Linked DNA regions of Homo sapiens. The protein of the gene in region 1 interacts with the protein of each later gene in a pairwise test. Each region holds a gene or a part of one and is shown in the gene's direction. Other genes may lie near its edges. The genes, in order: DGAT2L6, SNX4, FARS2 and TTPA.

What was found.
Region 2: the proteins of DGAT2L6 (region 1) and SNX4 interact in binary tests that used the Homo sapiens proteins (3 or more experiments, as listed by UniProt).
Region 3: the proteins of DGAT2L6 (region 1) and FARS2 interact in binary tests that used the Homo sapiens proteins (3 or more experiments, as listed by UniProt).
Region 4: the proteins of DGAT2L6 (region 1) and TTPA interact in binary tests that used the Homo sapiens proteins (3 or more experiments, as listed by UniProt).

What each region holds. Positions count from the first base shown.
Region 1 is NC_000023.11:70,201,395-70,206,290, forward strand, and holds the end of DGAT2L6 (diacylglycerol O-acyltransferase 2-like protein 6), read left to right. Parts: intron 1-495; coding exon 496-670; intron 671-2,910; coding exon 2,911-3,122; intron 3,123-3,557; coding exon 3,558-3,712; 3' UTR 3,713-4,310; downstream 4,311-4,896. UniProt on the Homo sapiens protein: Diglyceride acyltransferase that uses fatty acyl-CoA as substrate. Particularly active with oleate as a substrate. Has no wax synthase activity to produce wax esters.
Region 2 is NC_000003.12:125,517,203-125,524,851, reverse strand, and holds the start of SNX4 (sorting nexin-4), read left to right. Parts: upstream 1-4,649; 5' UTR 4,650-4,679; coding exon 4,680-4,820; intron 4,821-7,649. UniProt on the Homo sapiens protein: Involved in the regulation of endocytosis and in several stages of intracellular trafficking. Plays a role in recycling endocytosed transferrin receptor and prevent its degradation.
Region 3 is NC_000006.12:5,768,395-5,772,139, forward strand, and holds the end of FARS2 (phenylalanine--tRNA ligase, mitochondrial), read left to right. Parts: intron 1-2,896; coding exon 2,897-3,035; 3' UTR 3,036-3,189; downstream 3,190-3,745. UniProt on the Homo sapiens protein: Is responsible for the charging of tRNA(Phe) with phenylalanine in mitochondrial translation.
Region 4 is NC_000008.11:63,075,894-63,083,067, reverse strand, and holds part of TTPA (alpha-tocopherol transfer protein), read left to right. Parts: intron 1-6,480; exon of another isoform or gene 6,481-6,615; intron 6,616-7,174.

The sequences.
Region 1 (4,896 bases):
TGGTCAGGCTCAGGGGTCTGCCTACTCTCCAGAAACCCCAGCCATTGGCTTCCCTTTGGCAGGTTACTCTTAGGGAGGAAGCAGGTTGGTGGTGGCTAGTCTCGATTACCCCTGGAGGAGAGAACTCTGGAGGATCTCCAGTGTTGTCAGGCTGGGCAGAGTGGAAGATGGCTGTGCTTCATGGGTAGAGAGGGATGAGGTGGGCTTAGATACTATTGATCTGAAATGCAGTAGGCTATGGATGGTAGGAGGCAGAGGAGCTCAGTATAGACCCAACTGCAGAAGCACAGACCCCCAAGGCAAACAGCTGACCCTAAGGACCAATCTTAGGCTAGGGCAGTCATAACCCGGGACACGAAGGTCAGAGACAGAAAGGTGGAAACAGCAATAGTCAGAAAACAGAAGAACTGTCTCCAAAAGGAAGAGCCTGGGAAAACCCCTTACCCCATCCTCAGGAATGAAGTTTTTCTACCACTTGACTCTTTGGTTTCACAGGTGTGTGCCCTGTGAGTAGCTCAGCCTTGAAGTACTTGCTGACCCAGAAAGGCTCAGGCAATGCCGTGGTTATTGTGGTGGGTGGAGCTGCTGAAGCTCTCTTGTGCCGACCAGGAGCCTCCACTCTCTTCCTCAAGCAGCGTAAAGGTTTTGTGAAGATGGCACTGCAAACAGGGTGGGTTCCAAGGTTCTAGTGCTCTGTTGTCAGGGTGCCATAGGCCCTCTGTAGCCCTCTCCAGAATGGTGCCCTCCCTGGGCACCTGTTAGAGGGCCCCCATCTTCACTCTAATTCCTTCTGTCTACCCCCTCACATTGTGCCTTAGGGATGTTTGGGCCTCCAGATACATTTCAGTGGGCACTTTTCTTACTTGAAGTTGGAGAAAGAACAGCAGAAGAAAACCTTTTACTTTCTGCCCATTGGCCTGGTAGGCTGGAGGTCTGGGAAAGCGGGGCTTCACTCTATATCAACCTGTTAACTGAGAGGCCCTAAGAATCTACCAACTGCAAGGGAGGCACTAGCTTTGATACCGTGAGGATCAAAAAGATAAGACATGACCCCAAAGAGCATACAATCTGGTTTGAGAAATAGACCTTATTCATTCAGCAGTTACGGAACACCCACTGTATATCAGGCATAGTACTAGGCATTTAGGATATAAAAGTAAATAAGACCTGGTCCTTGCAAACTCACAGTCCAATATGGAAGAAGACAGACCCATGCACATATAATTACCAAATACCTGCAGAATCCAACCACTTACTACCTAGGCTACCACCCCTTGGTTTACTACCACCATCTCTCCCCTTGGTTGATTACAACACTTCTAACTGCTCTTCCTGTATCTATTCCCACCTCCCCCACCCCAAGAGTCTATTCCCAGCTTCAGCCAGGATGATCCTGTTAAACATGAGTCAGATCATGTCACTTCTCAAAATAATCCAATGGCTCCCATGTCACTCAGAGTAAAAGCCAAAGTCTTTATAGGGGCTTGCAAGACGCGGAATAATCTGGTCTATAGCTGCCTCTCTGTCCTCATCACTCACTTCTCTTCCCACTCTCTCACTCCATCATAGCTATACCGGCCTCTTTGCGGTCCCTCAAGCAGGCCACCCGCTCCTGCTTTAGAGTCTTTGCTTTAGCGGTTCCCTTGGAACACTATTCCTCCAAATGACTGCTTGGCTCATTCCTTTATCTCCTTCAAGTCTTTGCTCAAATGTCTCTTCTCAATACAGTTATCTGACCATCTTGCTCTATTTTTTGCCGGTTACACTTATCTTCTTATAGCTCATCCATTTTATTTATTTGTTTACCAACTATTTTCAATGTTTATTGTCTGTCTTCCTCCCAGAAAAAGTAAACTCCACGAACACAGAATTTTTAAAAATCCATTGTATTCACTGATGCATCTCCAGGGCCTAAAACAGTGCTGGCACATAGAAAGAGCTTAATATTTGTTAAATAAATGGAACACTACAATGGAAATGTGTACAAAGTGCCACGTGAGCACCAATTTATGGAAAGATCTTGACCCAGAATAGAGGTTTCATAGGTGGGTAACATCTGAACTGTGAATTGAAATATTGGTAGGAGTTGCCAGGCAGACCAAAAGGGAGAAAGAACTCAGGCATTCAGTGAGGACCTATGGCATGTCAAGTGCTATGCCAGGGCCTAGGGATTCAAAGATGAATATGACCCAGTTCTTGCCTTTGATTGGCTTGCTGTCTACTGGGGGAGTCAGGCAAGTAAGGAGATGACTATAATACACGGTTGGGGCAGCGTTAGTGTAGAAGAGAGGTAAGCACTAGATGAGGGGTACCTAATCCGCGTTGGGGGAAATGAAGTGGTCAAACAAAGTTGCTTTAAGGGGATGAGATTGGGACTGAGTGCAAAATTGAATGAGCCACATAAAGACAGAGGGAAGAAGGAAGATACTTCCGACAGAGGGAGCAGAATGTACAAAGACACAGAGATGAGAGAGTATGAGGCACACTTAATATGGCTAAGCAGATTGCAAGGAAAGAGTGGGGAAAGGGAAAGCTAGCCAAGGAGGGAAGGCTAGAGCAAAAAGGCCGTAAGGAAGCAGCATGGTGCAAACTGAGGAGCTCTGGAAGAGTTTGAGAGGAGTGGCATGTCCAGATATGCAGTTTACGAAGAACACTCTGCATGCTGGATGCAATGAAGACAGAGCTTTTGAGATTAGTTTCTCCCTATAACAGGACAAGGCAGAGCAGCAGCTCCCTTCAGAGTTCAGTTGGGAGAGTGAGGCATGGCAGGAATGGGACATGAAGATGGAGATGTTTGGGTGCTTGGGTTCTTGTCCTATAATGGGGAGGTTGGAGAGGTTTCCCACCTTGGAGAGGATTTTTCCGGGGATCTTCCTCAGAGAGCTCACACTCCTGCCCCTCTCTTTGCAGGGCATACCTTGTCCCTTCATATTCCTTTGGTGAGAACGAAGTTTTCAATCAGGAGACCTTCCCTGAGGGCACGTGGTTAAGGTTGTTCCAAAAAACCTTCCAGGACACATTCAAAAAAATCCTGGGACTAAATTTCTGTACCTTCCATGGCCGGGGCTTCACTCGCGGATCCTGGGGCTTCCTGCCTTTCAATCGGCCCATTACCACTGTTGGTGAGCTTTCCCTTATCTCCGGATGACCTGTTTCTTCATTCACTTCCCACCCACTTTAAATCATCCATCAAGTCCAGGGGGACCCAACTCACATCTGGGATGGGCAATGGGTGTGGTTAAGAGCAGGGTGGGTAGGACAACTAAACAGATAAGAGTTGTGGCCATTCATGGATGTGACATCAGCATCTGCTACAAGAGCATCACCATTCGCACACATTCTGTCACCACTCTCCTGAGCTTGCTTGCATTCTCTTGAGCATGGGTTTGATTAGATGATCAGAGAACAGGGGCCAGGATGAGACTGGAGCAAAGGGAAAGAAAGAAAGAAGGGGAGGAAAGCCAGATACTGAGTTTCAGTACATGGCTCCCAGTGAGGGATGAGTAGTTTGAGTTGAGGGGGGAACTCTGATGTTTGTCTCTTTTCTTTTTTCATAGTTGGGGAACCCCTTCCAATTCCCAGGATTAAGAGGCCAAACCAGAAGACAGTAGACAAGTATCACGCACTCTACATCAGTGCCCTGCGCAAGCTCTTTGACCAACACAAAGTTGAATATGGCCTCCCTGAGACCCAAGAGCTGACAATTACATAACAGGAGCCACATTCCCCATTGATCAACCCCCAAAGCCATGAGGGATCCAAGTAGAGCCACAGAAAAAGAAGAATTCCAGGAGAGGGAAAGATCGTAAGGATGAGAGAGGAGACCATCCAAGCCAGAAATTATTTAATAAATCAGAGTTCTAGCAATAGAGTCCTCTCCCAAGTGGCTGAGGCAGGCTTAGGGGAAAGAACCAGAGGGGCAGGGGAGGACTGGGGAGGGCTGGCTAGCCAGAGGAGTTGGCTGTATCACCCCTGGTTATTTTAGGGCAACAACCCAGTTGGGGAGTCTTATGAATCATTCCAGCCAACTCTCTGATCACAAAGAATACTGTGCCCCTTTCTCCTAAACCTTAGTTCACCATCACTACGTAGGTTTAGACTTAGAAGCTTTATTTGGAACAGGGATAGTTTGTTTCCTCTTGGTCCTTTCCTTACAACTTGGGAACTGCCACAAGGTAAACCAGGGACCTGAACTGTAGCTGCCTGGTCCAAGCAGACAGGATTCCGTCAGTTGTGATAGAGTTCTAGATTGGCAATGCAGTTACATTGTTTCTTCTTTGAAAATAAAGTTCTAGACATATAAAACAGGATACCACTATTTCCTGATTATTCTGTGGTTCGCTATTGGGCTTCCCTCAAACCTAAGATTTTCCCTTCTGGCCAGAAAGCTGCTCTATGGAGAGCCCTTTTCCTCTTCTTTATTTACCCTTCATACTTCCCCGGACAGAAAAGGTGGGGGAATGGAACCATAGCTGCTGCAAAGTGTAAGAGACAGGAGCAGAAACATGGGAACTGGCACAGGTACCCGCTGTGTAGCCCACCTCTCCTGATCCCACATAACCATCCTATGTCAGAAGGGAGGGAGCCACAAGACCATGCACCAACTGTAAGTTTGCTTGATGTCAAGTCCCTTCTATGTTCCAGGGACCATGACATTGCTTTCATAACCATTGTCTCTCAATACTAAACATAAGCCCAGTGAGATTGAGATTGTCATCACCTCCATTTCACAGTAGCTAAAGCTCCTAGAGGGTTAGTAGCTTGCCCAAAGCCACACAACTTTGGATAGAACTAGCATTCAAACCAGAGTTCTCTCCAATGCACCACTCTATGTCCCCATTCCTCATTTTCTGGAGACCCACTTTTCAGCTTCATTTTCCTAAATGAGGCCCCATG
Region 2 (7,649 bases), on another chromosome or scaffold:
GGACAGAGTAGATGTTTCATAAATATTTACTGCATGTTTAGTTGAGTAGATGAGTGCTTTACTGCAGCCGTTACAGCTCTAGGTTGCATAGAACAGAGACCAGGGCCAGGTGCTGTGCCTCATGCCTGTAATCCCAGGACTTCGGGAAGTCCACGTGGGAGGATCCCTTGAGCCCAGGAGTTCAAGACTAGTCTTGAAAACATAGTAGAACCCCATTTCTACAAAAAAAATAGCTGCACATGGTGGCACGGGCCTATAATCCCAGCTACATGGGAGGTTGAAGTGGAAGGATAGCTTGAACCCAGGAGGTTGAGGCTGCAGTGAGCTATGTTCATGGCACTGCACTCGAGCCTGGGTGGCAGAGTGAGACCCTGTCTCTTAAGAAAAAAGAAAAAAGAACAAAGATGAACTCTAGTCATATAAAGCAAATAGAGAAATAGGACAGGAATTCACAGAATTAAGGCTGGTGATTCTGTAGAAAGTTGCAGAATCAAGGTAGCTCCAGACACTTGGCACAGAACACACAGGAAATTCGACTTGGCAAAAACCTGGCCCTAGCACTGCCACAGGCTCAACCTCCAGCATTCCCTCCGACCCAAGATTCAAACTCTTGGGAGTTTAAGGGTCTGAATTGGTGAGTTGAAATAATCTTCCCAGAGGTGGTACAAGAAGGATCTGGGCTCCTCAACTCCTATGATGAGAGGCTACAATAGAGGTACATATTAAAAATTGCTCCCCACACAAGTCCTCACACAATGAGGAATTTGCTCCAAAAGAATATGGTGGTACTGATAGGAGGGTGGGAAGAAAGATCCTGTGCTGTGACCAAGGGCAAATGTCATCCACACTGACACTGAAAGGAGAAATGGGGTGGGGTTTGGGTTTGATTGCTGCTGAGAAGAAGGGGATAGTTTCAGAGGAAGGAGACAAAAGTGACTGTCACAGTCCCTGGGAGGCTGGCCAGGCACCAGGAGGAAAATCCTGGGAAGAGGGAGAACAGAACCTGGACGATGGGGACCAGAGAATAGATATTTCTTGGTGTTCCCAGGCTAACATGGGAGCTCAAAAAATGTTAAATTAATGACAAATTGAAATCTAAAACATGCTGTTGACATGCAAGGGACTGAAGTACCTTCTGCCTGGCTAGTCACTCCTGCTCCTGAGGCTTTCCCATTCACTCCAGAGCAGGTCACCGCAGGCTCTCCCCCAGTGAGGGCTGTGAGGGGGAATTCCTTCCCTTCCAGAGTCAGAAGAAGGGGGAATATCTATTTCCATAATCTCCATGGAGTTAGCCTTGGGCTTTCCCAGACCTCAGCACACAGGTGTGACTTTGCCTTCATATGCCAAGGAAACCTGTTTTTCTTTGTGTGTGTTCACATAAGGAATCAATTCTCAATTTCCGCAAATTATTTGCATCTTCTCTAGAAGAATCTCTCTTCTTCCTCTCCCCCATGAAGAGAAGCAGCATGGCCCAAGAGCTTGGGTTCTGGGTGTCCTACAAATCTGGGTTTGAATATCTTTCCCTTATTTAATGGCTGTGTGACTTTGTCAAATATTACTGAGCCTGCTTCATTGGTGAAATGGGGAAAATAATGTCTTTTTTGTTTGTTTGTTTGTTGTTTGTTTTGAGACAGAGTCTCTCTCTGTCACCCAGCTGGAGTGCAATGGCACAGTCTCTGCTCACTGCAGCTTTGACCTCCTGGGCTCAAGGGATCCTCCCACTTTAGCCTCCCAAGTAGCTGGGACTACAGGGGCATGCCACCCCATCTGGCTACTTTTCGTATCTCTTGTAGAGACAGGGTCTGACTATGTTGCCCAGCCTGGTCTCGAACTCCTGGGCTCAAGCAATCACTTCGGCTTCCCAAAGTGCTGGGATTTTTTTTTTTTTTTAAGAGTCAGTCTCATTCTGTTCCCTAGGCTGGAGTGCAGTGGTCCTATCATGGATCACTGCAACCTCAAACTCCTGGACTCAAGCGATCTTCCCACCTCAGCCTACTGAGTAGTTGGGATACAGGCACATGTCACCATGCCCAGCTTGTATAATGCCTGTCTTGCAGGGAGGGGCACTGCATGAAAAAGTATTAATATGTGAAGTGCCAAGCACATAAAAAAACTGCAGCTATCATGATTCTGGCCATTGGGCAGGGTGTCCCAAACATGGACCCATTAAAAAAATTCAAAATGCCAGCTACCCTCCCACCTCAGGCTTTTTACATAACCACTAGTTGCTATCTCTTTATCAAAAATAATTTGTTAGCCTATAGACAGCCCCAAGAATAAGGCATATTATCTAGTGCAGGGGTCCCCAACCCCCATGCTGTGGGCTGGTACCAGTCTGTGGTCTGCTAGGAACTCTTGATTTCGAGCAATCTGCCTATCTTGGCCTTCAAAAGTGCTGCGATCACAGGCATGAGCCACCGAGCCCGGCCAAAAGAACCCTTATTTATTTATTTATTTATTTTTGAGACGGAGTCTTGCTCTGTCACCCAGGCTGGAGTGCAGTGGCATGATCTCGGCTTACTGCAACCTCGGCCTCCTGGGTTCAAGCGATTCTCCTGCCCTAGCCTCTGCAGTAGCTAGGATTACAGGTGCATGCCACTATGCCCGGCTGATTTTTGTATTTTTAGTAGAGACGGGGTTTCACCATGTTGGCCAGGCTGGTCTCAAACTCCTGACCTCAAATGATCTGCCCACCTCGGCCTCCCAAAGTGCTGGGATTACAGGCTTGCGCCACCGTGCCCGGCCTTGTTTTTCTCTTTTTTTTGAGACAAGAGTCTCACTCTGTTGCTCAATTCACTGCAACCTCCCACCTCCCAGGTTCAGGCGATTCTTCCTGCCTCAGCCTCCCAAGCAGCTGGGACCACAGGCACACAACACCATGCTCGGCTAATTTTTTGTATTTTAGTAGAGACGGGGTTCACCGTATTGTCCAGGCTGGTCTCGAACTCTTGGCCTCCAGTGATCTGCCCACCTGGGCCTCTCCCAAAGTGCTGGGATTACAGGCCTGAGACTCCCGGCCAAGAACCATTTTTTATTTTATTATTTTTCTTTTTTTCTCACGCTTAACTTGTGGCTTTTAATTTTTTAATGCTCAACTTTTCTAATTTTCCCACAATTAACATGTATTATGTGTATATAAAATAGGGGGAAATAACCATCAGATCCATTCTGCCCTGATTTTAAAATCTATTTTTTTATGAGACGGAGTTTTGCTCTGTTGCCCAGGCTGCAGTGCGGTGCCACGAGCTCGGCTCACTGAGATCAACCTCCGCCTCCCGGGTTCAAGTGATTCTCCTGTCTCAGCCTCCTGAGTAGCTGGGGTTACAGGCGCCCGCCACCACGTCCAGCAAATTTTTTTAGTAAAGACGGGGTTTCACCATGTTGGCCAGGCTGGTCTCAAACTCCTGACCTCAGGCGATCCGCCGGCCTTGGCCTCCCAGTGTTGGGATTACAGGCGTGAGCCACCGTGCCCAGCCCATAACAGATTTATGAACAACTTAGCACTTGAAGATTATAAATGAGCTGAGGTTTTAGGAATGAATGAAAATTTGCTCCCAGGACAGATAAAGCATTCCAGGAAGAGAAAATTGTGTGTTACAGCTTGAAATAACTAAGTGGGCAGAAAAATGTTTCTGTACTTGAAAAATTGAGACCCGACTTTGTATAGAAAGTACTTCAAGGTACCACAATCTGTTACCACCAGTGAGCATTTCCCATCCGGTTGCCATAGTGAAAGCTTGTCAAGGAAGCAGGTTTGGAAAATTTTAAAAAGGGATGTTTGTAGAAAATTATCAGAGGTCTCCAGGGCTTCATGAAACACTTACAACAGAACTCAAGCCCTGCTTCAACAGAACGCTTCACTTTCCTCAAAACCTTGCAAAGGCCAGGCGCAGTGGCTCACGCCTGTAATCCCAGCACTTTGGTAGGCCGAGGTGAGCGGATCACAAGGTCAGGAGTTGCAGACCAGGCTGGCCAAAATGGTGAAACCCCGTCTCTACTAAAAATACAAAATAAATAAATAAATAAATAAATAAAAATTAGCCGGGCGTGGTGGCGGGCGCCTGTAATCCCAGCTACTCCGGAGGCTGAGACAGGAGGATCGCTTGAACCTGGGAGACGGAGGTTGCGGTGACCTGAGATCGCGCCACTGCACGCCAGCCTGGGCAACAAGAGGGAAACTCCGTCTCAAAAAGAAAAAAAAAAAACTTGCAAGTATTACCTTTTGCTGAATGTGTTACTCAACCTGCTGAAAGTTAACAATTTATAGAGCTCTGATCTTTCCGGGAGAAAACAGACCCAATAATAACTGGCAAGGCAGAGGCCCAGAAGGAGCAGGTCAGACTACGCCTCCAATTTCTTTTGAGTTTCGTTGGCTTTAGGATCGCCGTGCCTACTTCAAGTGTTCACTTTCCCCTTGCCTTTCTCTTTGTCTCTCTCTTCACCAGCTGCCCCTGCTTCCTGGGTCTCCTGGCTTAAGCAGCTGACCAGGTCCTCCGCGGGCTTGCGTGTCCTCCCACCCCCGGTTCCGCCTCCAGCTGCAGCTCCGGGAGCCCTCTAGGTTGACAAGAGGGGCGAGGCGATGGCTAGCGGAGGGGCGGGCGTCGCTAGCTGAGAGACTGGTTGGCCGCGGGCGCGGCGGCGGCGCAGGCGCACTGGGTTCGCCGCGCCGAACTGCAGCCATGGAGCAGGCACCTCCGGACCCCGAGCGGCAGCTCCAGCCGGCGCCCTTGGAGCCGCTGGGCTCCCCAGACGCTGGGCTGGGGGCTGCGGTCGGCAAGGAAGCGGAGGGGGCCGGAGAAGAGAGCTCTGGGGTCGACACGGTGAGGAGAAGGGGCGGCAGAGCCCTCATGGCCTGTGTGGTGGCCTAGCGGGCCGGGCTGGGCTGGGCTGGGCTGGGCTGGGCCGGGCCGGGCCAGTGGGCTCGGCCGAGGAGGCCCAGCAGTGAGGGGGAGCGAGGTGGAAAGGCGGGGTCCGCAGGTGCAGTGAGAGGAGGCTCAGTGGAAAAACAGGGTGCTGGGTGTGGGGCGAGCGCCAGGCGCTGCGGGTGACTGAGGGAAGTGTCGAGACTGCGAAGGGGAGGGAAAGGGACCCGGGGGGGCGCCCCCGCAGGCGTGGGGGTCTGGGCCCCGGATGGGCGAGGCTGGAGGAGGGGGTTTTCAGTGGTCGCGTAGCTGGGAGATCTGGACCGTGAGAAGAACGCTGATGTTTCAGCCAGTTGCTAAGGGGTTTTGCTGGGGAGTAGCTTAAAGGGACACAGTGGGGAGTGGGCAACAGTGCTTGAGAAGGAAGGGAATGGGGGACTAGAGTGAGGTGCAGGTCAGGGCCAATAAGGGTGGTTGGCCTGGTGCTGCCATCAGGAAATTGAAGAAAATGTCAGCTTCAAGAAAAGGTACAAATGAGAAAACATTTTTTAGACTCCTCATTTGGCTGTAATTTCTTTGTTTTGGGGGAAGTGCTGTGTTTCCCATTGGAGACTTATTGATAACCCATGTACTTTTTGAAGACCCTTTAGTAATTAGTGATTTTCATTTGCTTGAGGAAAAGGGGAAAAATGTATCATCTTATATTTGTAAGTGCTTTCATTACAAAGTGTTTGCATATACAATTCAAGATTTGTAGACCTGCTTATATTGAAACCTTTAAGAAACTAACTGCAGTGCTCCACATCAGACCACCCTGCCCAAAGTCTCCTTTTGTGTGCATTGCTCACACAGCTCACTTCACCCTCGACCCCCCAGGCTCAAACAATCCTCCTGCCTCAGCCTCCTGAGTAGCTAGGACTACAGGCACACACCACCACGCACGGCTAAATTAATTAATTAATTTATTTATTTATTTATTTTGAGACATAGTCTTTGTCACCCAGGCTGGAATGCAGTGGCACGATCTCGGCTCACTGCAACCTCTGCCTCCCAGGTTCAGGCGATTCTCATCCCTCAGCTACCTGAGTAGCTGGGGTTACAGATGGGCGCCACCACTCCCAGCTAAATTTTTTTTTTTTTTTAGTTTTTAGTAAGGATGGAGTTTTGCCATGTTGGTCAGGCTGGTCTCGAACTTCTGACTTCTAGTGATCCACCCTCCTCGGCCTCCCAAGGTGCTGGGATTACAGGCGTGAGCCATCATGCCCAGCCAAATTTTTGTATTTTTTGTAGAGATGGGTTTTCACCATGTTACCCAGGCTGGTCTGCAACTCCTGGGCTCATGCCCACCTGGGCCTCACAATAGTGCTGGGATTATAGGTGTGAGCCATGGTGCCCGGCCTGAAAGACTTTTAAGTTTAGAGACCAGCTAAGCAGGGACTTCAGGATTTGAAAGTTTTGCCTGCTGTGGAACATACCTGGGTATATAAGGTAGCATGAAGACTTTTTTGGATGTGCTTTTTTTTTCTTTGAGACAGGTTCTCACTCTGTCTCCCAGGCTGGAGTGCAGTGGCACAATCATGGCTCACTGCAACCTTGACCTCCTGGCCTCAAGCGAGCCTCCTGCCTCAGCCTCCTGAGTAGCTGGGACTACAGATGCATGCCACCACACCTGGCTAAGTTTTGGGGTTTTTTTTGTAAAGATGAGGTATCTCTGTGTTGCCCAGACTTGCCTTGAACTTTTGGGTTCAAGCTGTCCTCCTGCCTCAGCCTTCTGAGTAGCTGGGGTTACAGGTACACACCACCACACCCTGCCATTAGGTATTTAATTAATATGAAATTGCAACTAGAATATAAAATCTGTTTATGTTAATTTAAAAGGCATTATATATGTCTTTTATTAATTGAAAGAACACTATGTATATGTAGTTCTAAATATTTGAAAACCCAGGGATGCTATCATGCAGTATAAGTTGTAGTTACATACTACTTCCTGACATTTTTATTCTTTTTTTTTGAGCAGTCTCTTGACCTGTCACCCAGGCTGGAGTGCAGTGGCGTGATCTCGGGTCACTGCAGACCTCTGCCTCCCAGGCTCAAGCGATTCTCATGCCTCAGCCTCCTGAGTAGCTGGGATTACAGGTGTGTGCCACCATGCCCAGCTAATTTTTGTGTTTTTAGTAGAGTTGGGGTTTCATCATGTTCGCCAGGCTGGTCTCGAACTCCTGACCTCAGGCGATCCGCCTGCCTCAGCCTCCTAAAGTGCTGGGATTACAGACATGAGCCACTGCCCTCGGCCTATGTGGTTTCTTAAAACAACTCCCTAATTTAGTAATTCATAAAGAGGCACAAGCCATTTGGGCAAATATTTCAGAATTACTAGGTGTTTAAACAAACATACATTCAGTGCATTCCTTCCCCTTCCCCTCCTCTCCCCTCAAAGAGAAAATCAAACTAAAAACCCGTCCTTTGAAGGTCTTCACATCCCTTCACTTCTCTCCATACTCTCTCTCACTCAGTCTGTCTTCAGTTGAAAATTACTGTAATGTTTTTATGGCCTCATTGTAGCTGTTACTGATAGGAATTTGGTCTCACCAGAAAAGTAAGTTAGTTTTGCGTGTGCTGTGCACAGTGGGGCTCTACTTTTCATTTAATTCCCAAAATTACTTCCAATAGATGGGTAAATGGAACCAGCCAGAGGCTCATAGAGAAGTAATTTGACCATGGTCACAAGCTAGTCAGTAGCATGGCTGGGATTTGAATCTAGGTTCACCTGGCATTGAAATCAGT
Region 3 (3,745 bases), on another chromosome or scaffold:
CTGAGCACATAGAAATAGGAAAACAGATTTTTCCCCATCCATCTTCAATTGGCAATAACTTTTAGAGGTGCCATATTACCAGCTCTTCTGCTAGGAGGGACCAGAGTGAAACAGTGAAAAAACACAATGTGATAATAATTGCCACAATGATACTTTCACCTCACACCCAATTAGCACTTTATAATTTGCAGAGTCCTGTCAATTTCTAAACAGGCCCTGATTTCTCCATATCTTCTCCAATACTTGTTATTTTCCTTTTGTTTTTAAAATGAGCATCCTAATGGGCCTGAAGTGGTATCTCATGGTGGTTTTGATTTGCATTTCCCTGATGGCTGAAGTTGAACATTTTTTCATGTGCTTGTTGGCCATTTGTTTATCTTTGCAGAAATGTCTATTCAGATCTTTGGTACATTTGTTTTACTATGTTGTTGGCTATTTTATCGTTGAGTTGTAAGAGTTCTTTGTATATTCTAGATACAAATCCCTTATCAGGTATATGACTTGCAAATATCTTCTCCCATTCTGTGTGTTCCTTTTTGACTTTCTTGATTGTATGCCTTGAATTAAAAAAAATGCCTAATTTTGATGAATTCCAAGTTTATCATTTTTTTTAATTTTTTCACCTGTGCTTTTGGTGTCATCTAAGGAGGTTTTGCCTATGCGGTCATGAATATTTACTCATCTGTTTTCTTCTAAGAGTGATAATAGTTTCAGCTCTTATATTGAGATATATGATATATTTTGAGTTAGTTTGTGTGTGTGTGGTGTGAGGTAGGGATTCAGCTTCATTCTTTTGCATGTGGATATCCAGTTGTCTCAGTATCAATTGTTGAAAAGACATTTCCCCCTTGGATAGTCTTGGTGCTCTTGTCAAAAACCAAATAACTGTAAATGGAGCAATTGTAGTTTGAATGGAATGGGTCAGCACTTGGTGGCAGCAGGGGTCTTGGCTATGTAGTTTCATAAGCTCCCACTCCTGGAGAGCCTCTGTTTTCCTCTCAAAGCCAGGTTTTTCTGTCTCGCTGCGTTTTGGTGCCTGAAAGGCTTGGGTGGGCATGGTACCTGGAGTACTGTTGTTCGGAGCACAAAGTGAGGAGAAAAGACCACTCTACTTTGTGGGAGGTCCTTGGGGCAGTTTGGGCAGCAGTGCCTCCCCCAGGAGTCAGGGTCCCCACCCCAGAGGAATGTCCACAGAGCAGAGCCATTGGCCTGAGCTGGACTGAAAAAGAAAGAGCCAGGTGGGGAGAGGATTTGATTTCTCCCTTGGTCTAAAGCAGGCAGCTGACATTGGGTGAGGGAATGGGGCAGGCCTCCATGTGCTATCGGGAATCCCCAGGAGGTCCCTACAGAAAACTTCCACCCCCAGCCCAGCTTGTTTATCACAGCCCTTCAGTGGTAACTTCCTCCTGTGGCTTGATCCAAACGGGGGCTGCATATGTGGCCAAAATGCACATAACCCTGTGAGGCACAGCATAGCAGCTTATCTTCCCTGAAAGTGGAAGGACAAAAGCAGGACAAAGATGACCAAGCCAGGGTGGGAGAGAGGGGAGGAGACACTGGAAGGGGAGGTGAAGGGGCAGACTAGGGAGGCCAGGACCAAGGCAGACTCTCATGCACCAGGCATATTCTGCCCAGCCAAGGGCTCTGGCATTCAGATGAGGGAGAGGGAGAGGAAAGAGGAGAGAATCCAGTGAGACCAATCCATGAAGTGTCGGGAGGACCCTGGAAGCAAAGGCTCTGGACTCAGGTGGCATCAATGGGACTACCAGTTTCCAGTGAATATGTGGGAGTGGCCTAGGTCCAGCTCAATCAGAAGCCCATTTGTTCAAGGCCCTGGTATTACTGAAGGCCCAGCCCTGTCTCACCTGCCAGAAAGCACGTGGCCTCTCCCTGGCTAGGCTAAGGGCTGGTTGACGGCATCATAAAAGGAATCTGCCTGGGAGCCCTCAATTTGTTTCAGTTTCCTCCCCCAAGGCCAAGAAGGGATTGGGTTGCCTCTGTTGTTGTTGCTGCTGCTGCTGCTGCTGCTGCTGCTGGGGGTTGGAAAAGAGGAATTTGTGTGACCAGATCCCCTTATTGTATAGAAGAAGAGAAATGTGAGCATTCAGAGATGGTGAGATGTCAGACACCCAGCCACACAGCCAGTGAGAGACATGTTGGGGACAGGGCCAGGCCTGCCAGTTCATGGCCCAGGGGTCTTTCTCATGAGATCAACTGACCAGTGTGTCTTAGCACCTGCCATGCAAATAGAAGGCCCTACTGCTGTCATCTCCACGTATTCCAGAATTACTCAGCTGTTCTATGCAAGCCAAGTCAACACCAATGTCATAAAGGAGAGACTAAAGTAATTCTCTACACAGCACATACACGGCATATATGGCCTGTATGCTTCCTGGACAGCCAACAGGGGTGCCGAGGGAGTGAGTCCCTCAGCCTTGCCTGGAGCCTTGCTGATACTTCAGTTTGCCTCACAAACACGGTTACCTTCCATGACATGAAGGAGGCACACGCGGGTTGACCCCTGACCCTGTCTGCTTGTTAGAATCACGTCGGGAACCGGGGACAGGCTTAGAAGCCCAGGTCCCACCTCCCACCTGCTGAATCCAAATCTCCAGAGCGTGGCCTGGGAAATCAAATTTGTCAGCTTCCTTCCCAGGGGACTTTGATACATCCACCCCAGTGGAAACCAGCAGCCTCCTTTAGTCAAGCGAATGTTTCCCTGACTGTCACCTTCTCCCCCTGTATAAGATGCAGATTGTTAGCGGTAAATGGTACCTGGATTCCAACCTCAGTTCTCCACTGCAGTTGGGGAGATCTGGCCAGGGCAAGCCACACTGCTCCTTCAGGCACAGCCTTGTTCATCCCGCACTCACCTGTGTTCTCTTCCTCTCTGTAGGACGCACAAGACCAGCCACTGCTACCGCATCACGTACCGCCACATGGAACGGACTCTGTCCCAGAGAGAGGTCAGGCACATCCACCAGGCCTTGCAGGAGGCTGCAGTCCAGCTGTTGGGTGTGGAGGGCAGGTTCTGATGTCACCACTTCACTCAGGCTGCAGCCCTCTTGGGGCTCCAGGATTTGCTGAAAGAGAAAAAGATATGGTTTGTGAACTGGGGCATCAATCATCTTTTGATAAATGGATCAGTTTTAGGACTTTCAGAAAATAAAAGATCGCTCTTGAAAAGCTGTTGACATAGCATTTGTCTTTTATTTGGGGAAAGGAGGAAGGTCTTTTCCTATTCCTTTTAGAAGTGCTTTGCCCACTGGCATTGGTGCTTAGTATGGTTAATTGGTCCCTGGGTTCCATTAAGCACCAGGCATGATTTCTTGCCTGACAGGCTCTTCCACTCAGGTAATGAGTGAAGCCACACAGAGGGACATCAGAAATTCCAGATACAATACAGGAAGCTTTTTGAATCAGCTTCCATTCCTTCCTCCCTTCTCTTCTTTTTCAGTTTTGCAAAGGGCAGGCTTCAAAGAGGGCACTAATGAAATGCCAGGGCTCTCGTCCAATGTGAAGGGAGGTGCGTCTTTCAGCCAGGGCAGGATATCTATTTGCTTTTCATAAACCCATGGCTTGGAGTCAGGCCTCTGGCCCCAGGACTTGGGCTTAGCTGCCTTCTGCCCCACTGGAGAGGAAGGAAAGGGGCGAGAGCTGCCCCAGAGTCTTGGAGGCACACAGAGGGGCCAGGTCCTCAAACTCCCTTCAAGTTTTCCCAGCAGGCAGCCTCCACTTCCAGAAG
Region 4 (7,174 bases), on another chromosome or scaffold:
TCCACAGTGGTTGAACTAATTTACACTCCCACTAACAGTGTAAAAGCATTCTTATTTCTCCACATCTTCTCCAGCACCTGTCGTTTCCTGACTTTTCAATGATCACCATTCTAACTGGCGTGAGATAGTATCTCATTGTGGTTTTGATTTGCATTTCTCTGATGACCAGTGATGATGAGCATTTTTACATGTATCCGTTGGCTGCATAAATGTCTTCTTTTGAGAAGTGTCTGTTCATATCCTTCACCCACTTTTTGATGGGGTTGTTTTTCTTGTAAATTTGTTTAAGTTCCTTGCACATTCTGGATATTAGCCCTTTGTCAGATGGGTAGATTGCAAAAATTTTCTCCCATTCTGTAGGTTGCCTCTTCATTCTGATGCTAGTTTCTTTTGCCATGCAGAAGCTCTTTAGTTTAATTAGATCCCGTTTCTCAGTTTTGGCTTTTGTTGCCATTGCTTTTGGTGTTTTAGTCATGAAGTCCTTGCCCACACCTATGGCCTGAATGGTATTGCATAGGTTTTCTTCTAGGGTTTTTATGGTTTTAGGTCTAACATTTAAGTCTTTAATCCATCTTGAATTAATTTTTGTATAAGATGTAAGGAAGGGATCCAGTTTCAGCTTTCTACATATGGCTAGCCAGTTTTCCCAGCGCCATTTATTAAATAGGGAATCCTTTCCCCATTTTTTGTTTTTGTCAGATTTGTCAAAGATGAGATGGTTGTAGATGTGTGGTGTTATTTCTGAGGCCTCTGTTCTGTTCCATTGGTCTATATATCTCTTTTGGTACCAGTACCATGCTGTTTTGGTTACTGTAGCCTTGTAGCGTAGTTTGAAGTCAGGTAGCATGATGCCTCCAGCTTTGTTCTTTCTGCTTAGGATTGTCTTGGCAATGTGGGCTCTTTTTTGGTTCAATATGAACTTTAAAGTAGTTTTTTCCAGTTCTGTGAAGAAAGTCATTGGTAGCTTGATGGGGATGGCATTGAATCTATAAATTACCTTGGGCAGTATGGCCATTTTCATGATATTGATTCTTCCTACCCATGAGCATGGAATGTTCTTCCATTTGTTTGTGTCCTCTTTTATTTTGTTGAGCAGTGGTTTGTAGTTCTCCTTGAAGAGGTCCTTCACATTCCTTGTAAGTTGGATTCCTAGGTATTTTATTCTGTTTGTAGCAATTGTGAATGGGAGTTCACTCATGATTTAGTTCTCTGTTTGTCCGTTATTGGTGTATAGGAATGCTTGCGATTTTTGCACATTGATTTTGTATCCTGAGACTTTGCTGAAGTTGCTTATCAGCTTAAGGAGATTTTGGGTTGAGACGATGGGGTTTTCTAAATTTACAGTCATGTCTTCTGCAAACAGGGACAATTTGACTTCCCATTTCCTAATTGAATACCCTTTATTTCTTTCTCTTGCCTGATTGCCGTGGCCAGGATTTCCAACACTATGTTGAATGGGAATGGTGAGAGAGGGCATCCTTGTCCTGTGCCGGTTTTCAAAGGGAATGCTTCCAGTTTTGGCCCATTCAGTATGATACTGACTGTGGGTCTGTCATAAATACCTCTTATTATTTTGAGATACGTTCCATAAATATCTAGTTTTTTGACAGTCTTTAGCATGAAGGGCTGTTGAATTTTGTCAAAGGCCTTTTCTGCATCTATTGAGATAATCATGTGGTTTTTGTCATTGATTCTGTTTATCTGATGGATTACATTTATTGATTTGTGTATGTTGAACCAGGCTTGCATTCCAGGGATGAAGCCAACTTGATCTTGGTGGATAAGCTTTTTGATGTGCTGCTGGATTCGGTTTGCCAGTATTTTATTGAGGATTTTTGCATCGATGTTCATCAGGGATATTCATCTAAAATTCTCTTTTTTTGTTGTGTCTCTGCCAGGCTTTGATATCAGGATGATGCTGGCCTCATAAAATGAGTTTGTGAGGATCCCCTCTTTTTCTATTGATTGGAATAGTTTCAGAAGGAATGGTACCAGCTCCTTTTTGTACCTCTGTTAGAATTTGTCTGTTAATCGGTCTGTTTTTTTTTTTTGGTTGGTAGGCTATTAATTATTGCCTCAATTTCAGAGCCTGTTATTGGTCTATTCAGAGATTCAACTTCTTCCTGGTTTAGTCTTGGGAGGGTGTATGTGTCCAGGAATTTATCCATTTCTTCTAGATTTTCCAGTTTATTTGCATAGAGGTGTTTATAGTATTCTCTGATGGCAGTTTGTATTTTGTGGGATCGGTGGTGATATCCCCTTTATCATTTTTTTGTGTCTATTTGATTACTTGATTCTTCTCTCTTTTCTTCTTTATTATTATTATTATTTATTTTTTTTTTTTTTTTGATACGGAGTCTCGCTCTGTCACCCAGGCTGGAGTGCAGTGGCATGATTCGGCTCACTGCAAGCTCTGCCTCCTGGGTTCACGCCATTCTCCCACCTCAGCCTCCCAGTAGCTGGGACTACAGACGCCCGCCACCACGCCCAGCTAATTTTTCTGTATTTTTAGTAGAGACGGGGTTTCACCGTGTTAGCTAGGATGGTCTTGATCTCCCGACGTCGTGATCCGCCTGCCTTGGCCTCCCAAAGTGCTGGGATTACAGGCGTGAGCCACCATGCCCGGCCTTCTTTATTAGTCTTGCTAGCAGTCTATCAATTTTGTTGATCGTTTCAAAAAACCAGCTTCTAGATTCATTGATTTTTCAAAGGGTTTTTTGTATCTCTATCTCTTTCAGTTCTGCTGTGATCTTAGTTGTTTCTTATCTTCTGCTAGCTTTTGAATTTGTTTGCTCTTGCTTCTCTATTTCTTTTAATTGTGGTGTTAGGGTGTCGATTTGAGATCCTTCCTGCTTTCTCTTGTGGGCATTTAGTGCTATAAATTTCCCTCTACACACTACTTTAAATGTGTCCCAGAGATTCTGGTATGTTGTGTCTTTGTTCTCATTGGTTTCAAAGAACATCTTTATTTCTGCCTTCATTTCATTATTTACCCAGTAGTCATTCAGGAGCAGGTGGTTCAGTTTCCATGTAGTTGTGCGGTTTTGAGTGAGTTTCTTAATCCTGAGTTCTAATTTGATTGCGCTGTGGTCTGAGAGACAGTTTGTTGTGATTTCTTTTCTTTTACATTTGCTAAGGAGTGCTTTACTTCCAATTATGTGGTCAATTTTAGAATGAGTGTGATGTGGTGCTGAGAAGAATGTATATTCTGTTGATTTGGGGTGGAGAGCGCTGTAGATGTCTGTTAGGTCTGCTTGGTGCAGAGCTGAGTTCAAGTCCTGGATATCCTCGTTAACCTTCTGTCTCATTGATCTGTCTAATATTGACAGTGGGGTGTTAAAGTCTCCCATTATTATTGTGTGGGAGTCTAAGTCTCTTTGTAGGTCTCTAAGGACTTGCTTTAAGAATCTGGGTGCTCCTGTATTGGGTGTATTTAGGATAGTTAGCTCTTCTTGTTGAATTGATCCCTTTACCATTATATAATGACCTTCTTTGTCTCTTTTGATCTTTGTTGGTTTAAAGTCTGTTTTATCAGAGACTAGGATTGCAACCCCTGCTTTTTTTTTGCTTTCCATTTGCTTGGTAGATATTCCTCCATTCCTTTATTTTGAGCCTATATGTGTCTCTGCATGTGAGATGTGCTATAGACATCTGATGGGTCTTGACTCTTTATTCAATTTGCCACTCTGTATCTTTTAATTGGGACATTTAGCCCATTTACATTTAAGGTTAATATTGTTATGTGTGAATTTGATCCAGTCATTATGATGTTAGCTGGTTATTTTGCCCATTAATTGATGCAGTTGCTTCATAGCATTGATGGTCTTTACAATTTGGCATGTTTTTGCAGTGGCTGGTACCAGTTGTTCCTTTCCATGTTTAATGCTTCTTTCAGGAGCTCTTGTAAGGCAGGCCTGGTGGTGACAAAATCTCTCAGCTTGTCTGTAAAGAATTTTATTTCTCCTTCACTTATGAAGCTTAGTTTGGCTGGATATGAAATTCTGTGTTGAAAATTCTTTTCTTTAAGAATGTTGAATGTTGGCCCCCTACTCTCTTCTGGTTTGTAGGGTTTCTACTGAGAGATCTGCTGTTAGTCTGATGGGCTTCCCTTTGTGGGTAACCCGACTTTTCTCTCTGGCTGCCCTTAACATTTCTTCCTTCATTTCAACCTTGGTGAATCTGACAATTATGTGTCTTGGGGTTGCTCTTCTCGAGGAGTATCTTTGTGGTGTTCTCTGTATTTCCTGAATTTGATTGTTGGCCTGACTTGCTAGGTTGGGGAAGTTCTCCTGGATAATATCCTGAAGAGTGTTTTCCAACTGGTTCCACTCTCCCCATCACTTTCAGGTACACCTATCAAAAGTAGATTTGGTCTTTTCACATAGGCCCATATTTCTTGGAGGCTTTGTTCATTTCTTTTTACTCTTTTTTCTCTAACCTTGTCTTCTCGCTTTATTTTATTAATTTGATCTTTAATCACTGATACCCTTCTTTCCACTTGATGGAATCAGCTACTGAAGCTTGTGCGTGCATCACAAAGTTCTTGTGCCAGGCTTTTCAGTTCCATCCGGTCATTTAAGGTCTTCTCTACACTGTTTATTCTAGTTTGCCATTCGTTTAACCTTTTTTCAAGGATTTTAGCTTCCTTGTGTTGGGTTTGAACATGCTCCTTTAGCTCAGACAAGTTTGTTATTACTGACCTTGTGAAGCCTACTTCTGTCAACTCATCAAAGTCATTCTCCATCCAGCTTTGTTCTATTGCTGGTGAGGAGCTGTGATCCTTTGGAGGAGAAGAGGCGCTCTGGTTTTTAGAATTTTCAGCTTTTCTGCTCTGGTTTCTCCCCATCTTTGTGGTTTTATCCACCTTTGGTCTTTGACGTTCATGACCTACACATGGGGTTTTGGTGTGGATGTTCTTTTTGTTGATGTTGGCGCTATTCCTGTCTGTTTGTTAGTTTTCCTTCTAACAGTCAGGTCTCTCAGCTGCAGGTCTGTTGGAGTTTGCTGGAGGTCCATTCCAGACCCTGTTTGCCTGGGTGTCACCAGCGAAGGCTGCAGAACAGTGAATATTGCAGAACGGCAAATATTGCTGCCTGATCCTTCCTCTGGAAGCTTCGTCCCAGAGTGTCACCTGCCTATATGAGGTGTCTGTCGGCCCCTACTGGGAGGTGTCTCCCAGTTAGGCTATATGGGGGTCAAGGACCCACTTGAGGAGGCAGTCTGTCCATTCTCAGAGCAGAAATGCCATGCTGGGAGAACCACTGTGCTCTTCAGAACTGTCAGACAGGGACGTTTAAGTCTGCAGAAGCTGTCTGCTGCCTTTTGTTCAGCTATGCCCTGCCCACAGAGGTGGAGTCTATGGAGGCTGTAGGCCTTGCTGTGCTGCAGTGGGCTCCACCCAGTTCGAGCTTTTGGCCCACTTTGTTTACCTACTCAAGCCTCAGCAATGGCAGATGCCCCTCCCCCAGCCAGGCTGCCGCCTTGAAGTTAGATCTCAGACTGCCACGCTAGCAGTGAGCAAGGCTCCATGGGTGTTGGACCCGCCAAGCCATGCACAGGAGAGAATCTCCTTGTGTGCCAGTTGCTAAGACCTTGGGAAAAGTGCAGTATTTGGGTGGAAGTGTCCTGTTTTTCCCGGTACATCCGTCATGGCTTCCCTTGGCTAGGAAAGGGAAATCCCCCAACCCTTTGCACTTCCTGGGTGAGGCAATGCCCCGCCTTGCTTCAGCCCACCCTCCATGGGCTGCACCCACTGTCCAACCAGTCCCAGTGAGATGAACCAGGTACCTCAGTTGGAAACGCAGAAATCACCCATCTTCTGCATCGATCACACTGGGAGTTGCAGACTGGAGCTGTTCCTATTCGGCCATCTTGGAATGGATCCCATTTTTATGTTTTACTGATTTATAAAATATTTTTATGTATTTTAGGCCTTTTTATATATTTTAGGCCTTTGTCCTTGATTTTTATCTGTTACATTACTTATACTATTTTTTTCTGTGCAGAATTTTAAATTTTAATGTAATCAAATGAATTGATTTTATTAGTCTTTGATTGCCTCTGGGTTTTATAATCTCTTCTCTTGTCCAAAATTTTTTCTAGTTATTTGTGTCTTCTCTTTTTTATGTTGGGGTCTTTGATCTATTGAGATTTGTTTTTATGTTAGGAGTAAAATAGGAATCCAACTTTATTTATTTTCATTTTTTAGATGGCTATATAAGTATCCCAATATCATGAGTAATAAACTAATATGTACTTAGTAACTACTGAATATGAAAACACAATCTCAGGTCCTATGAAGAATGAAGCTTAAATGAGGCATTAAACATATATATGTATAGAGATAACTAACAATAAAACATGTTTCATTTACTAATTTCATTTTAGCTGCTTTAAAAAAAGTAATGTTTAAATAGAAAAATAAAATTGACCATCAGCCTCTGGGACATAATATATTTTTTTCTGTATTCCTTAAATAAGGAATTGTTTTCATTGTACCATGCCCTTGAGGAATTGGCTAGCAGGACTGTGTCTAAATCCACCGCATAGAAATCAAGTTTCTGTCTGTGAACTCTTTGTCTTGCTTTTCTGCCAACTGGAAAGGAAAAGGAAAGGGTAAGAGTGCAAAACTTTTTTTCATTTTCCTCTGCAATAGCACTTAATTCAACTCTAACTTCTTCATTCATAATATAGAAGCCCTATAGTTTTTGTATAAAGAAAGCTTGATAAGTGCCTCAGTCACAATGAAATTTCTCATTATTCTAGTGTTTGTATTTGAAGTTATGATGAATTAATAAGGTTTTATTATATAATCCTAATAGCTAATGTGCTTATAGAATGCAACATACTTTGGTAAGTAGGGTTTTCATGGATTATCTTTTATTATTTTCTCATTTTAGAAGAAACAGATATAAAGAGTAAGTAACTTGTCTGAAATTATGTAGCCATTAAGTGTTGAAGCAGGGATTTGAATTTGGGTTGGGCTCAGGAGAGAGCCTGCGCTGTCAAATACACTGCACTTGCCTCTTATATTTAAAACAACAAACATATAAAACAGCTAACCATTCACTTCTCTGCCTGTTCTACATAGTCTCATGAATTCCTTATATCAAGTGATAGCCTAGTTCCTTATACTTTTGTTCCATGTGATAAGCTTTTTATGCTATAATTATCT